Linked DNA regions of Homo sapiens. The protein of the gene in region 1 purifies or fractionates together with the protein of each later gene. This does not show direct contact. Each region holds a gene or a part of one and is shown in the gene's direction. Other genes may lie near its edges.

What was found. The genes of interacting proteins can lie anywhere in the genome.
Region 2: the proteins of MPG (region 1) and ETFA purify together in Homo sapiens (co-immunoprecipitation; one large-scale study listed by IntAct). This does not show direct contact.
Region 3: the proteins of MPG (region 1) and LARP4 purify together in Homo sapiens (affinity purification with mass spectrometry, with the first as the bait; one study listed by BioGRID). This does not show direct contact.
Region 4: the proteins of MPG (region 1) and GOT2 purify together in Homo sapiens (affinity purification with mass spectrometry; one large-scale study listed by BioGRID and IntAct). This does not show direct contact.

Annotation. Positions count from the first base shown.
Region 1 is NC_000016.10:81,225-83,785, forward strand, and holds part of MPG (DNA-3-methyladenine glycosylase), read left to right. Parts: intron 1-1,827; coding exon 1,828-2,032; intron 2,033-2,561. UniProt on the Homo sapiens protein: Hydrolysis of the deoxyribose N-glycosidic bond to excise 3-methyladenine, and 7-methylguanine from the damaged DNA polymer formed by alkylation lesions.
Region 2 is NC_000015.10:76,290,970-76,294,469, reverse strand, and holds part of ETFA (electron transfer flavoprotein subunit alpha, mitochondrial), read left to right. Parts: intron 1-1,769; coding exon 1,770-1,851; intron 1,852-1,956; coding exon 1,957-2,039; intron 2,040-3,500. UniProt on the Homo sapiens protein: Heterodimeric electron transfer flavoprotein that accepts electrons from several mitochondrial dehydrogenases, including acyl-CoA dehydrogenases, glutaryl-CoA and sarcosine dehydrogenase.
Region 3 is NC_000012.12:50,477,195-50,480,504, forward strand, and holds the end of LARP4 (la-related protein 4), read left to right. Parts: 3' UTR 1-2,810; downstream 2,811-3,310. UniProt on the Homo sapiens protein: RNA binding protein that binds to the poly-A tract of mRNA molecules. Associates with the 40S ribosomal subunit and with polysomes. Plays a role in the regulation of mRNA translation.
Region 4 is NC_000016.10:58,720,817-58,724,316, reverse strand, and holds part of GOT2 (aspartate aminotransferase, mitochondrial isoform 1 precursor), read left to right. Parts: intron 1-414; coding exon 415-571; intron 572-2,038; coding exon 2,039-2,167; intron 2,168-3,500. UniProt on the Homo sapiens protein: Catalyzes the irreversible transamination of the L-tryptophan metabolite L-kynurenine to form kynurenic acid (KA). As a member of the malate-aspartate shuttle, it has a key role in the intracellular NAD(H) redox balance.

The DNA of each region.
Region 1 (2,561 bases):
GTGTTGGCCATGGGGGTGGGGAGGGGTGAGAGGCCCCAGTATCTGCCACTGGTGGAAATGGTATCAGTGAAATCCTGATCAGAAATTTGGGATGGAAAAGGAAACAATGAGAAAAGGGCTGTGGGAACCTCCTCTCCAGAGTGGTAGTTGGGCCCCCCCAGTGTGCCCCCATGGAGGCACAGGAGTGTGCAGAGTGAAGCCCCTGGAGGGGCATTCCCTCTAAGCTCCAGGGAAGATGGAACAGGGCCACCCTTTCTCCCCTGGACATGGCCTGGCCAAGCCTGGCCTGTTCACTTCTGTCCTCATGGCTCTGGATGCCTAAGGATTTCTGGGCTTCCCGCCCAGGCACTGACCCCTTCTTCCCACCACCCTATCTCCAGGAAGGCCTCCTGAATGCTCCCCACACTGACCCCTTCTTCCCACCACCCTATCTCCGGGAAGGCCTCCTGAATGCTCCCCACACTGACCCCTTCTTCCCACCACCCTATCTCCGGGAAGGCCTCCTGAATGCTCCCCACACTGACCCCTTCTTCCCACCACCCTACCTCCGGGAAGCCCTCCTGAATGCTCCCGGCGCTGACCCCTTCTTCCCACCACCCTATCTCCGGGAAGGCCTCCTGAATGCTCCCGGCGCTGACCCCTTCTTCCCACCACCCTACCTCCGGGAAGGCCTCCTGAATGCTCCCCGCGCTGACCCCTTCTTCCCACCACCCTACCTCCAGGAAGCCCTCCTGAATGCTCCCCGCGCTGACCCCTTCTTCCCACCACCCTATCTCCGGGAAGCCCTCCTGAATGCTCCCCACGCTGGCCCCTTCTTCCCACCACCCTACCTCCGGGAAGGCCTCCTGAATGCTCCCCACGCTGGCCCCTTCTTCCCACCACCCTACCTCCGGGAAGCCCTCCTGAATGCTCCCCACGCTGGCCCCTTCTTCCCACCACCCTATCTCCGGGAAGCCCTCCTGAATGCTCCCCGCGCTGACCCCTTCTTCCCACCACCCTATCTCCGGGAAGCCCTCCTGAATGCTCCCCCGGCGAGCATCTAAGCTCCAGTGCCCCTCCTCCCCAGCCCGTGATACTGACCATGGCCTTTGGCACCACAGGGCTTCGTGGGCTGAGGTGAAGGTAGCCTGGCTGTCCAGCTGACCTATCTGGCCTAAAAACGAGAGGTGCAGGGGATGTGGTTGGTCCCCAGTGCTCTGCTGTTAACTCTGGGGCTCCGAGCAGTGACACAACTGTTGGCCGTTACCAGGACCATGGTCCAGGCTGGGGCACCGTGGGGCAGCTGGGCCTACTGCTCAGAAAGCCGGAGGGTGGGAGCTGAGTATGAGGGTCCCTTGTGGCCACCTCAGCAGCCCAGGTTTAGGGGACTTCACGGGCTCTGGGATTGCCCAGGTAGCTGGTGTGGGGACATCCTTGGGGTCCTGTGCCTTCCGTGATGCCTGGCCTCGTGCTAAATGCTGATGGTTTTCTCAAGGGCACTTGGGAAAGGAGGAATCTGGGGAATGGAGGGTCCTGCTGAGAGGACTTGACCTGCAAGGTGAATCCATGACTGCCGGTTCCCAGCCCAGCCTGGCTGTGGCCTGAGGTATCTTCGGCCTGCGGTCTGGTTGTCTAGCAGGGCTGGAGGAGACAACTGGTGCCCTCAATAGCCACATTCAGCCTCAGCAGGAGCAAGAGAAGAGGCAGGATGGAGACGGGGCAAGGTCCCTGGCTAGACCTGGGCGGCTGACACACCCTGAGCTGGGGAGATGAGGTCCAGGCTGGGCACTGTTAGGGTGAGTGGACCCCCATCCCTTCCCGCCCTGAGCAGAAACTGACTGCCCACAGGTCCTAGTCCGGCGACTTCCTAATGGCACAGAACTCCGAGGCCGCATCGTGGAGACCGAGGCATACCTGGGGCCAGAGGATGAAGCCGCCCACTCAAGGGGTGGCCGGCAGACCCCCCGCAACCGAGGCATGTTCATGAAGCCGGGGACCCTGTACGTGTACATCATTTACGGCATGTACTTCTGCATGAACATCTCCAGCCAGGGTGAGCAGTGCTGGGGCACGGGGGGTTGGAGGGCCGGCAGAGCCCTGTCCGCTAGCAGCCAGGGGACCACTAGGAGGACTGAGGTGGGGCCAGCATTTGAGCGAGGAGGTGCCACTTCCAGGCCAGGCCAGGGTTTCGGGAGCTCTGGCTACGCTGACGGGGCAGGGCTGGTTAGGTTAAAGGGGTAGAAAGGGCCGGGTGGGGCCGGGCGCGGTGGCTCACGCCTGTCATCCCAGCACTTCGGGAGGCCGAGGCGGGCGGATCACCTGAGGTCAGGAGTTCGACACCAGCCTGGCCAACACGGTGAAACTCTGTCTCTACCAAAAATACAAAAATTAGCTGGGTGTGGTAGTGGGCTCCTGTAATCCCAGCTACTAGGGAGGCGGAGGCAGGAGAATCGCTTGAACCCGGGAGGCGGAGGTTGCAGGGAGCCAAGATCGCGCCATTGCACTCCAGCCTGGGTGACAGAGCGAGACTCCATCTCAAAAAAAAAAAAAAAGGAAAGGAAAAGAAAGGGTTGGTTGGAGTG
Region 2 (3,500 bases), on another chromosome or scaffold:
AAAGAACATATTCTGGTGGGTTTATGATTAGTTATGTGGATTTCTTTACCCAATTCCTGCTAACAACTGTAGGATCTTACATAGTTGATACAGCCACAATGTGTGATGTGTGATGGCTAAGCTATCTATTTGTATGTCTGTATTAGCCACAGTATATGATGGCTAAGCTATCTTTTTGGTTTCCCTGTTTTTGGATATATAGGAATTTGTGATTTGTTGTTTGTTTTGCTGTGATTTAAAATAATTATTGTAATATTACTTTAAAAAGACTTTGATACTTTATACTACTTTGAGAAAAATCAAAATAGAAATCGTCTTCTGTACTCAGTTACAATCCTAACCTGTCATGTTCTAATTTTAAAGAAAACAACCAGTACCTGTATGAAGAGATCGTTTAATAGAGTTCGGTTTTATACCATTTTATTCAGCTACTTGTCATAAACAGCAAGTTATTCTTCTGTATAATGCCAGCCGTTTTGCCAGTAAAAACAAGATAGTTTCAATGGGAAAATTCTGCCCCATTTTCTATCCCATGCTGCTATGCAGCTACATTGCAATTAACTGAGTTTCTTAATTGGAAATTCTCTTAAAGTTTGAGAAGCTAAATGCAGCTGCATCCATAATAAAGGGCCTCTGTAGTACAAATGGTATGCCGGTGAACACTTGGTTTAGCAGAGAATGTATTCTTGCACTGCATCCTTTCTTCAGTGAATATTGTTGCAAGCTAACAGTTCATATGAGGGTGGCACAAGGCACAGCCTTTTAATCCTACTCATCAGTGAATCAATGAATCAGTTTGGAGGTAAACAAGGAGACAGAAGACGATAGTATGACTGATATGACTTAGCTAAAGTGGAAACCAGCCATGAGGTAATAAAGATACTTAAAAAGGGGAAATCTAATTGCCTTCTGAATATAGAAAATCTGAATCATCAAAAAGCTTTCTCAGAACCCCATTCTAATTCCAAACAGGAAAAATGAAGAATTAAAATAGGAAATATTTTGCTTTGTCATAGATAAATATGTGTATGTGGGCAGGAACTCAGTGGTTGACAATGGGATGTTACTAGAGAACTTCATTTTCACCATTTCCAGGACATTGAACTTACACTTGGATTGAACCAAAAGTAAAAAGCACAATTTATAACAAAATTTGAATAAAGAGCCATGTTGATTTTGGTTTGTCAATTAGCACTTTTCTTTTTCAAGGCAGGAATTTTTGTTGAAATGCTTGGTAGTTGGACAGTGTAAGGTCAGTCAGTAGTAAGATCTATTGGCATTAGATTTTCTTTGTTAAGGAATGTATTTTAATATTTTAATTCTTTGTTTGTTTGAGATGGAGTTTCACTCTTTCGCCCAGTCTGGAGTGAAGTGGTGTGATCTTGGCTCACTGTAACCTCCGCCTCCTGGGTTCAAGCCATTCTCTTGCCTCAGTCTCCCAAGTAGCTGGGATTACAGGTGCCCGCCACCATGCCTAGCTAATTTTTGTATTTTTAGTAGAGATGGGGTTTCACCATGTTGGCCAGGCTGGTCTTGAACTCTTGACTCCGGTGATCTGCCTGCCTCAGCCTCTCAGAGTGCTGGGATTACAGGCTTGAGCCACTGCGCCCGGCCGGAATATATTTTAATTCTTAACTGGCCCTTTTGCTAATAAGAATAATTTTTACAGTTGGCCATTAAGATTTTATGATCTGTTGATATTTATAGTGGTGGCTTTATTTGTATATTTCTGATAGATGGATAATTAGGAACTTATCTTTTAATCATAGGTGGCACAAGATCTCTGTAAAGTAGCAGGCATAGCAAAAGTTCTGGTGGCTCAGCATGATGTGTACAAAGGCCTACTTCCAGGTGAGGTTTTCCAGTAGAAAAAAATGTAGTGTCTAAATTACGCTTGAATATATGAATATGAAAGTATTTCAAAATATTTTTTTATCAAATGTGTTTAATTCTCAGAGGAACTGACACCATTGATTTTGGCAACTCAGAAGCAGTTCAATTACACACACATCTGTGCTGGAGCATCTGCCTTCGGAAAGGTGAGAAGGTTGAGAATGTGGAATCTGATATCACTGCTTGAAAGGGTTAGATTTCATTGTGCTGAAAGTATGCAACAGACTGTTTATGTAGCCAATCTGGATTTATCTGAATTGATGTGGTAGTTTTGCTAAAATTTATTCTTTCAAGATTTTGTCATAATTTTCCGTTAAAACTACCATTTCCAGGTTTTCAAATTATGTTGTGGAGAAAACTCTAATTAGGCTATTATTTTAAAATTTTCTGCATGTAAAAGTAATGCTGAATTCTGCTTGCATGTGAGAGAGAGAGTGAACGAGCAAGAGTCATTTCTATTAGTAGCCCATTTTAAGAGATGGTTTATTTGGATGGCTGATGGATATCTAGAAAAGCCAAATTTTATCTACGTAGGGAATTTGGAAAGGGCTTGTGGTGGTTGAAGACATCCTTAAGGTAAAGAAAGCTGTAATCTGATCATGTGCATTGTGATGTGTCTGAAGAATGAGTGTGTTATAAGATGGATAGCAGTCTACATAAAGTTAAAAATGGAGGGAGGAGTGTAATGGGAGCTTAAGACAAGGAATTCGTCAGTGGATTTTTCTTGCTCTCTCTCTGTGGCCGTGGGTGTTATCTTAGCTCTCTTTTCTTTTGTTCCATTCTTAATAAGGTGTCATTTTTAGTCTTTATTTTTACTTTCTTTTTTTTGAGATGGAGTCTCACTGTCGCCCAGGTTGGAGTGCAGTGGCGCCATCTCGGCTCACTGCAGGCTCCGCCCCCCGGGGTTCACGCCATTCTCCTGCCTCAGCCTCCCGAGTAGCTGGGACTACAGGCGCCCGCCAGCTCGCCCGGCTAATTTTTTGTATTTTTAGTAGAGACGGGGTTTCACTGTGTTAGCCAGGATGGTCTTGATCTCCTGACCTCGTGATCCGCCCGCCTCGGCCCCCCAAAGTACTGGGATTACAGGCGTGAGCCACCGCGCCTGGCCTACTTTTTTTTTTTTTTTTTTTCGAGATGGAGTCTTACTTTCCTCGCCCAGGCTGGAGTGCAGCAGCACAATCTCAGCTCACTGCAACCTCTACCTCCTGGGTTCAAGCCATTCTCCTGCCTCAGCCTCCCGTGTGTAGCTGGGATTATAGGTGCGTGCCACCACACCTGGCTAATTTTTGTATGTTTAGTAGAGACAGGGTTTCGCCGTGTTGACCAGGCTGGTCTCGAACTCCTGACCTCAGGTGATCTGCCTGCTTCAGCCTAGCTCTGTTGCCCAGACTGGAGTGCAGTGGCACGATTGTAGCTCAACATACCCTCCAACTTGTGGGCTCAAACGATCCTCCTATCCTAGCCTTCTGAGTAGCTAGGACTACAGGTACATGCCACCATGCCCAGCTAATTTTCAAATTTTTTGTATCGATGTAGTCTCCCTATGTTGTGCGGGCTTGTCTTAAACTCCTGGCCTCAAGTCATCCTCTCATTTCAGCCTCCCAAAG
Region 3 (3,310 bases), on another chromosome or scaffold:
ATTAGTGCATAATTTCTCAGTGAATAAAGTTGTAGCTCTCATATACTAAATAGACAAGTTTACATGCTGTTATTTAGAAAATGACTAAAATATTAAAAACCGTGTTGTGTTAATCTGTTTTAAGTCATACCATGTTCAGAGTTCTATGTAAGGTGGGTTTTATTTTTCTTTTAAGGGATAGTTTGTAATAGTAAGAACTGTCCCATATGTTAGTAAATTACATATGTACAAATTGAAACTGTAAATTGTGAACACTGGAAAGCACCATTGTGACATAGAGTAAACATCTTAGTAATATATTAAAGTGAATGTAAATGGTGGTTAAAATTACATTACTGTGAAATTCATCTTCCAACTCTAAGTTAAGCTTTGGAGATACATGTTAGTGGTTAACTGTTAAGAGCTTTGAAAACACTGCACATATCTGTACAAGCCAGAATTACTATTTCTTTGACTTATTATTAGCTTGGCAGTTGCTTTTGATTTGATTGTTTTATGACATGGTATACTACTATATTTACTCAGTTTGAAACTATTCATTTCTACACACTATTTTTAAAAATTGCCTACTAGGTGAAACATAACAATAAAACTACCTGTGCTGAAATTTGGGGGAAGTTTAGGTCCTTTAAAAAAACATATTAATCATTGACTACATCTATGATAAAAGTGCTTATTTTGGTTTACTAAGATAATGCAGTTGGTGGAAATGATAAACGTTTTAAGTGTTAACATCCTTTGAATGCGTTGGATTTCAGAGAATAAACATTTTGTAAAAATCACTTGGTAAGGATTATAAACTTAATTACTGCACTTAAAATGAAACATTACTTTTTTTAAACAATGTGTCACAAATGTAGGTCTGTATTACTTGTATGCTTGTGTGACTTACTGTTAGTCCAGCTCTAAAAATTTAAAGGTTGTAATTGAAATACAAGAAAAGAGCCTTCTTTTAGAAGAAAGCAAGTATATTTTTGCTTTTACTTCAAATGTTATTTAAAGTAGAAATTTAATTTGTAGATATAACCTTTAAAAATTTTCTCATTAAGACAATGTTTTTAATTTAATTTGCCTCATTACATCTAATAGTTCCCATTTGATGGCATGTATAGGGAAGAGTGAGAGAGTGTGTGTGTGTGTATGTGTGTGTAATATTTATATATATTCACAGTATGTATTTAGCATTTATTTTATTACAGCAGATTTAAAGTTTGTATCTAAATAATGCCTATGAGTTGTGTGAAGCTCTTGGCTTTTTTCCAACGTTACTTTGTAACTAATGAGGGTGGATGTTCATTGTAGTTTATTTATTTGGTTCTTTAGATGGAGGAATTTAAAAAATCAAATTTTTCTCTTCACCTTTATGACTTGACATTTCCTTGATCTGTTGGAGGCTAAAAGTAGGTATAAATGATATTGAATGTTGGGTATAGTGATACTCTGCCATAGTTCTTACTGCATGAAGAGAACAAGAGTCACACAAGTTCACCACTTTGCACTTCATAGAGAAGGTACATAGAGACATTGCAAAACCTGTCTCCATTTGCTATCCTGATAATTAAGGTTTTCATAATACCTAGGGCCTGTCTCTGAGTAATTTTAATTTTGCCAAATACACTGACATTTAAAATAGTGATCCATCTAAATTTTTTTCAGCTGGGTTTTGAGGAATATAAGAGCTTTCAATGATAAAGGTTTGTTGTAGTTGTCTTATGTGCTGAATTTGCAGATGATCAGATGCTGTGCAGAATTCTGATTTATTTTTGTTTCCTAAAATTAAGATAGCTTGAATATTATTTCACATTCCTTTTTCTTTTTTAAATAAACAGGTTTGCTTTGGAAAGGCTTAATGATGGAATGTTAGCATCTTCACTAGGGTAAAGAAGAACAAAAAGAATGTTGCTGGAACGTAAAATAGTATTTAAAAGTTAATGAACACTTCTCTAGTTTTCTTAGTTATGGCCTTAATAATTAGTCTCTTGGCTTAAATGTCCACTGGTTTTACTTTGACACAGTTGAACAACACTGGGGTTAAGTCTCTGGTATTTAGGCTGGCAATATATATATTAACCATATTTTAAAAGTACCAATTTTGTTTTTACAGAAAAGATAAAACTCAAAAGAGAACAGTGTATTCCTTCTGAGGGGCTTTTATAAATTATTAACTATAATATATGATGGATTTTTTCCTAATTTTTTATATTTCCTTACAATTTTGGTGGCCATTAATTTAACTTTAGGCTTTTGGGCATATGCTAGTCTGAGCTTCCGAAAAGATACATATATGTTTCCCTTTTCATTAGCTGAATGAGGATATTTTAAGAAGTTGAAAGAGAATTTATTTTCAAGTTGTGAGTAAATCCTCCTTTGAAATTCACCTGATTATTAGATAACTTAAAGTTTATTTTTAAAAGCTGACAACTTTTTATGAATCTTCGAGTTGACAGTTCCTAAAAGCGTAACTCAGATATTAATGGGCTGTGTATTAAATGGTTTTATTTTCAGTTTTGCAGCACAGAACACTGTTGAAATATCCATATCAACTTGATTTTTTTAACCTAATTCAGGTGTCCTTTGCATCTCTTAAATGTTGGGGGTGGGGGTCAGAGCCAGTTATCCGGCTTCTGTTTTGTCGATTGCTTAGATTTGTTCCTGTTGTCAAAACTGTTACCCCCAAAATTGGTGTGACACATGCTCATGCATAAAATGTTAAAATGAGTACATCCTTGTATTTGTATTTGTTTTCAACATCGCCAAGGTGCTATGGGAAATTAACAAAATTAGAAAAAAAATAAAATTATTAAAAAGCAGGACTGGTTTCCTTTTCTCTAGGTGGTGTATGTCTAATGACTACTTCTGTCTACCTTTCAGTATTATATGTTGCCCTCGCTAATTCTATTATTATTATTGTCTAAGTTGTTTTTTGGATGATGAGGGCAGTGGGAAGTAATGGTGTTTCACTTAAAACAAGGGCAGAGAGACAAGATACAGCTTTATGATCCTGGGGTATTCTTTTAGTTATTTTAGTATCAGAAGCAGTTATTAAAGGGTGAAAAATGGCTGGGCGCGGTAGCTCACGCCTGTAATCCCAACACTTTGGGAGGCCAAGGCGGGCGGATCACCTGGGGCCAGGAGTTCAAGCCCACCCTGGCCAACATGGTGAAACCCCATCTCTACTAAAAATACAAAAATTAGCCAGGCATGGTGGTGGGCACCTGTAATCCCAGCTACTTGGGAAGCTGAGGCAGGAGAATCGCTTGAACCTGGAAGGTGGACATGGCAGTGAGCCAGGATCGCGCCATTGCACTCT
Region 4 (3,500 bases), about 59 Mb from region 1:
AGCGAGACTCTGTCTCAAAAAAAAAAAAAAAGTTTGTCAGAATAGCAATTCAATTTTATTTAACACAAATTTGTATTTTTCATAATTTTAAATATATAAGAGTAATATGGCCGGGTGCGGTGGATCACTTGAGGTCTGGAGTTTAAAACCAGCCTGGCCAACATGGTGAAACCCCATCTCCACTAAAAATACAAAAATTAGCTGACGTGGTAATGCATGCCTGTAATCCCAGCTACTTGGGAGGCTGGAGTGGGAGAATCACTTGAGCCCAGGAGGCAAACGCTGCAGTGAGCCAAGATAGCACCACTGCACTCCAGCCTGGGCAACAGAGCAAGAGTCTATCTCATAAATAAATAAGTAAAATGGATCTTGGATCTAGCTAATGGGATTGAGCTAATGTGTTTCTCATTTCAGCTCCTGGTGGACCCATGTGGAAATGGGACCTCCAGATCCCATTCTGGGAGTCACTGAAGCCTTTAAGAGGGACACCAATAGCAAAAAGATGAATCTGGGAGTTGGTGCCTACCGGGATGATAATGGAAAGCCTTACGTTCTGCCTAGCGTCCGCAAGGTGAGCTTGCTGTTCATCTCCTTTTGAATGGGATGAATAAACTGAAGAGAGCCCTGGAGAGTGGCAGGAATAGTGCTGGACCGGGAATCAGGAGCCCTGGGCTTTAGTTCTGGCACTAATGGCATGAATCACCCGGGTTTTCTGGGCTGTAGTCTCCTTGACTGTAAAGGTGAGAGGTTGGAACCACCTGTTTTTTCCCAAGATTGAACTTTCTATGGTTCTGTGATCATCTATAAAACAGACATTAAATACGCTTTAGAAATGCTTAGCTATGCCTACTTTAATCCTGAAGGTGCATAAGAGGACCAAGACTTTAAGCGCTGTCTCTTGTTGAGAGGAATAGCTCTTCGTGGATTACTATTTTTATTTTCCATTTCTCTAACTGTGATTACTTTAATCAAACCTTTGTACACAGGCATGCTCTGTCCTTTCTTCCTGCTGAGCTATGCAATTTTCACCTCTTTCTTTTGTTATATTTTTATTAGTAGCATCTTTATTTGTTAACTAAATAATATAACAAATCCCCTTAGAATAATTTTTTAAGTTATTCAGCAAGTATTTGCTACTGCAACCTGCATCACTACCAAGCACTATTGTACATTCCCTCATTCACACTTCACCTCAACACTGTGAGAGGTAGAAATAGTTCCTCCATTTAACAGAGGAGGAAACTGAGGCTCAGGAAGGCTAAATAACTTGCCTAGGGTAACACAACTTGTAAGGGACAGCCAGGCTTCCAATGCCAAAGCACGAAGATGTGTGGCTATTACTGTTAACACTTCGAAGTTCTTAGACTGGCATATAGCTTGACATGCTTTCTCTTTTGTATTTAGTTTGATTTAATCATCTTATATCTATTTTAGGTGTTGCTCTTAAACCTTGGTCTTGTGCATTCCAAGAATCTCATTTTATGTTAAATTGTAACCAAGAGAGACTATACCCATCCACATAAAACCTAACTTAAACAATAAAATACAATTTGAAAAAGAAAGTATTTCTGTTCTGCAATACAAACTATCAAGCATTCTACCTACCCTTCTTCTCAGAGAGTAACTTCAAATTTTAAAAAAAGGTTTGGCCGGGCGCAGTGGCTCATGCCTGTAATCCCAGCACTTTAGGAGGCCGAGGCAGGTGGATCACCTGAGGTCAGGAGTTCGAGACCAGCCTGGCCAACATAGTGAAACCCCGTATCTACTAAAAATACAAAATTAGCTGGGCGTGGTGGTGCACGCCTGTAATCCCAGCTACTCGGGAGGCTGAAGCAAGACAATCACTTGAACCCGGGAGGTGGAGGTTGCAGTGAGCCGAGATCACACTACTGCACTCCAGCCTGGGTGACAGAGCAAAACTCCATCTCAAAAAAAAAAGACTTTACCTCCAAAACTTAACTTATAAAACTTTAAACATTAATCATAGTAATTCCAAGTAAGGAGAAGAAATTCAATGGATGTATTTTCTCTTGTCTAGGCAGAGGCCCAGATTGCCGCAAAAAATTTGGACAAGGAATACCTGCCCATTGGGGGACTGGCTGAATTTTGCAAGGCATCTGCAGAACTAGCCCTGGGTGAGAACAGCGAAGTCTTGAAGAGTGGCCGGGTAAGCTGAGCAGGCTCTGGCATCATCCCAGGTCTGTTTTAACAAATTTGTAATTATTTAAACAATTTTAGGCCAGGCGCGATGGCTCACGCCTGTAATCCCACCACTTTGGGAGGCCAAGGCGGGTGGTTCATCTGAGGTCGGGAGTTCGAGACCAGCCTGATTAACATGGAGAAACCCCATCTCTACTAAAAATACAAAATTAGCCGGGCATGGTGACACATGCCTGTAATCCCAGCTACTCAGGAGGCTTAGGCAGGAGAATCACTTGAACCTGGAAGGCAGAGGTTGTGGTGAGCCAAGATCATGCCATTGAACTCCAGCCTGGGCAACAACAGCAGAACTCCATCTCAAAAAAAAAAAAAAAATTTAAGAAATATGAAAAGATAACTCATTTTGTGTGTAATGATTGTTTTGAGGAGGCCACACTATTTCTAATAATTCTTATTTGATAGTAAATTGCCATCATTAAATAAAATAATTTACATGACACCAATTCCAAAAATGTACTAGTAGTAATCCTGAAAATGCGGTAGTCATTTGACTGATAGATTTGATGTTACTTTTGCTGTTAGTCTCTACCTGCTTATGTTCATTTTACATCAAATATGCTTTAGAAATGTTAACTATGCCGAGTTTTAAGCCTGCAGTTAGCCCACACCCTCATGTCCTAAGCTTCCAACTTGCACAGAAGCAGCAAGCAGGAAACAAGCCATGGGTGGACTGTGGGGGCTGGACCAGTCTGGCAGCCCTCTGCTGTCCCTTCACAGCCCACATGGACACAGAAAGAAGACCACGCTCCCAACATGTGAACTCGTGCACATTGTGGTTCACTTTCTTTTGAAAAAAACATGTTTTTTAGTGAGTGCATTTGTACGTTTTTCTGGGTAAGCCTGGGGAGTGAAGAAACATACAAACTAGCAAAATTAAGTCAACATTTTTTCTGCCCTTCCCCCTCTGAAAAGCCAGAATAAATACACTTTATTTACAAGACTGGTCTAAGTCCACACATGAATTCGTTAACTCAGAGTAAAGCACACAACCTCAACCCCAGGGTTATGTAGTAATTATCCTACGTCAAATAGAATTTGGTTTAGTTCTGTCCATACAGTCAACTGCCTGTTAGCCCCTCCTGGAAATTTCTGTACTTTTTAATTCATGTGCTCTTTTGCCTAGTCTCTGCTCCATCTAAATAACAACCTAAGTATGAAACTGGCCTACCTTAAAATAACATCAGCTTGTCTTTTATAAGTTGTTGTGCCTCAGCCGGGCGCAGTGGCTCACTCCTGTAATCCCAGCACTTTCCGGGACCAAGGCGGGTGGATCACCTGAG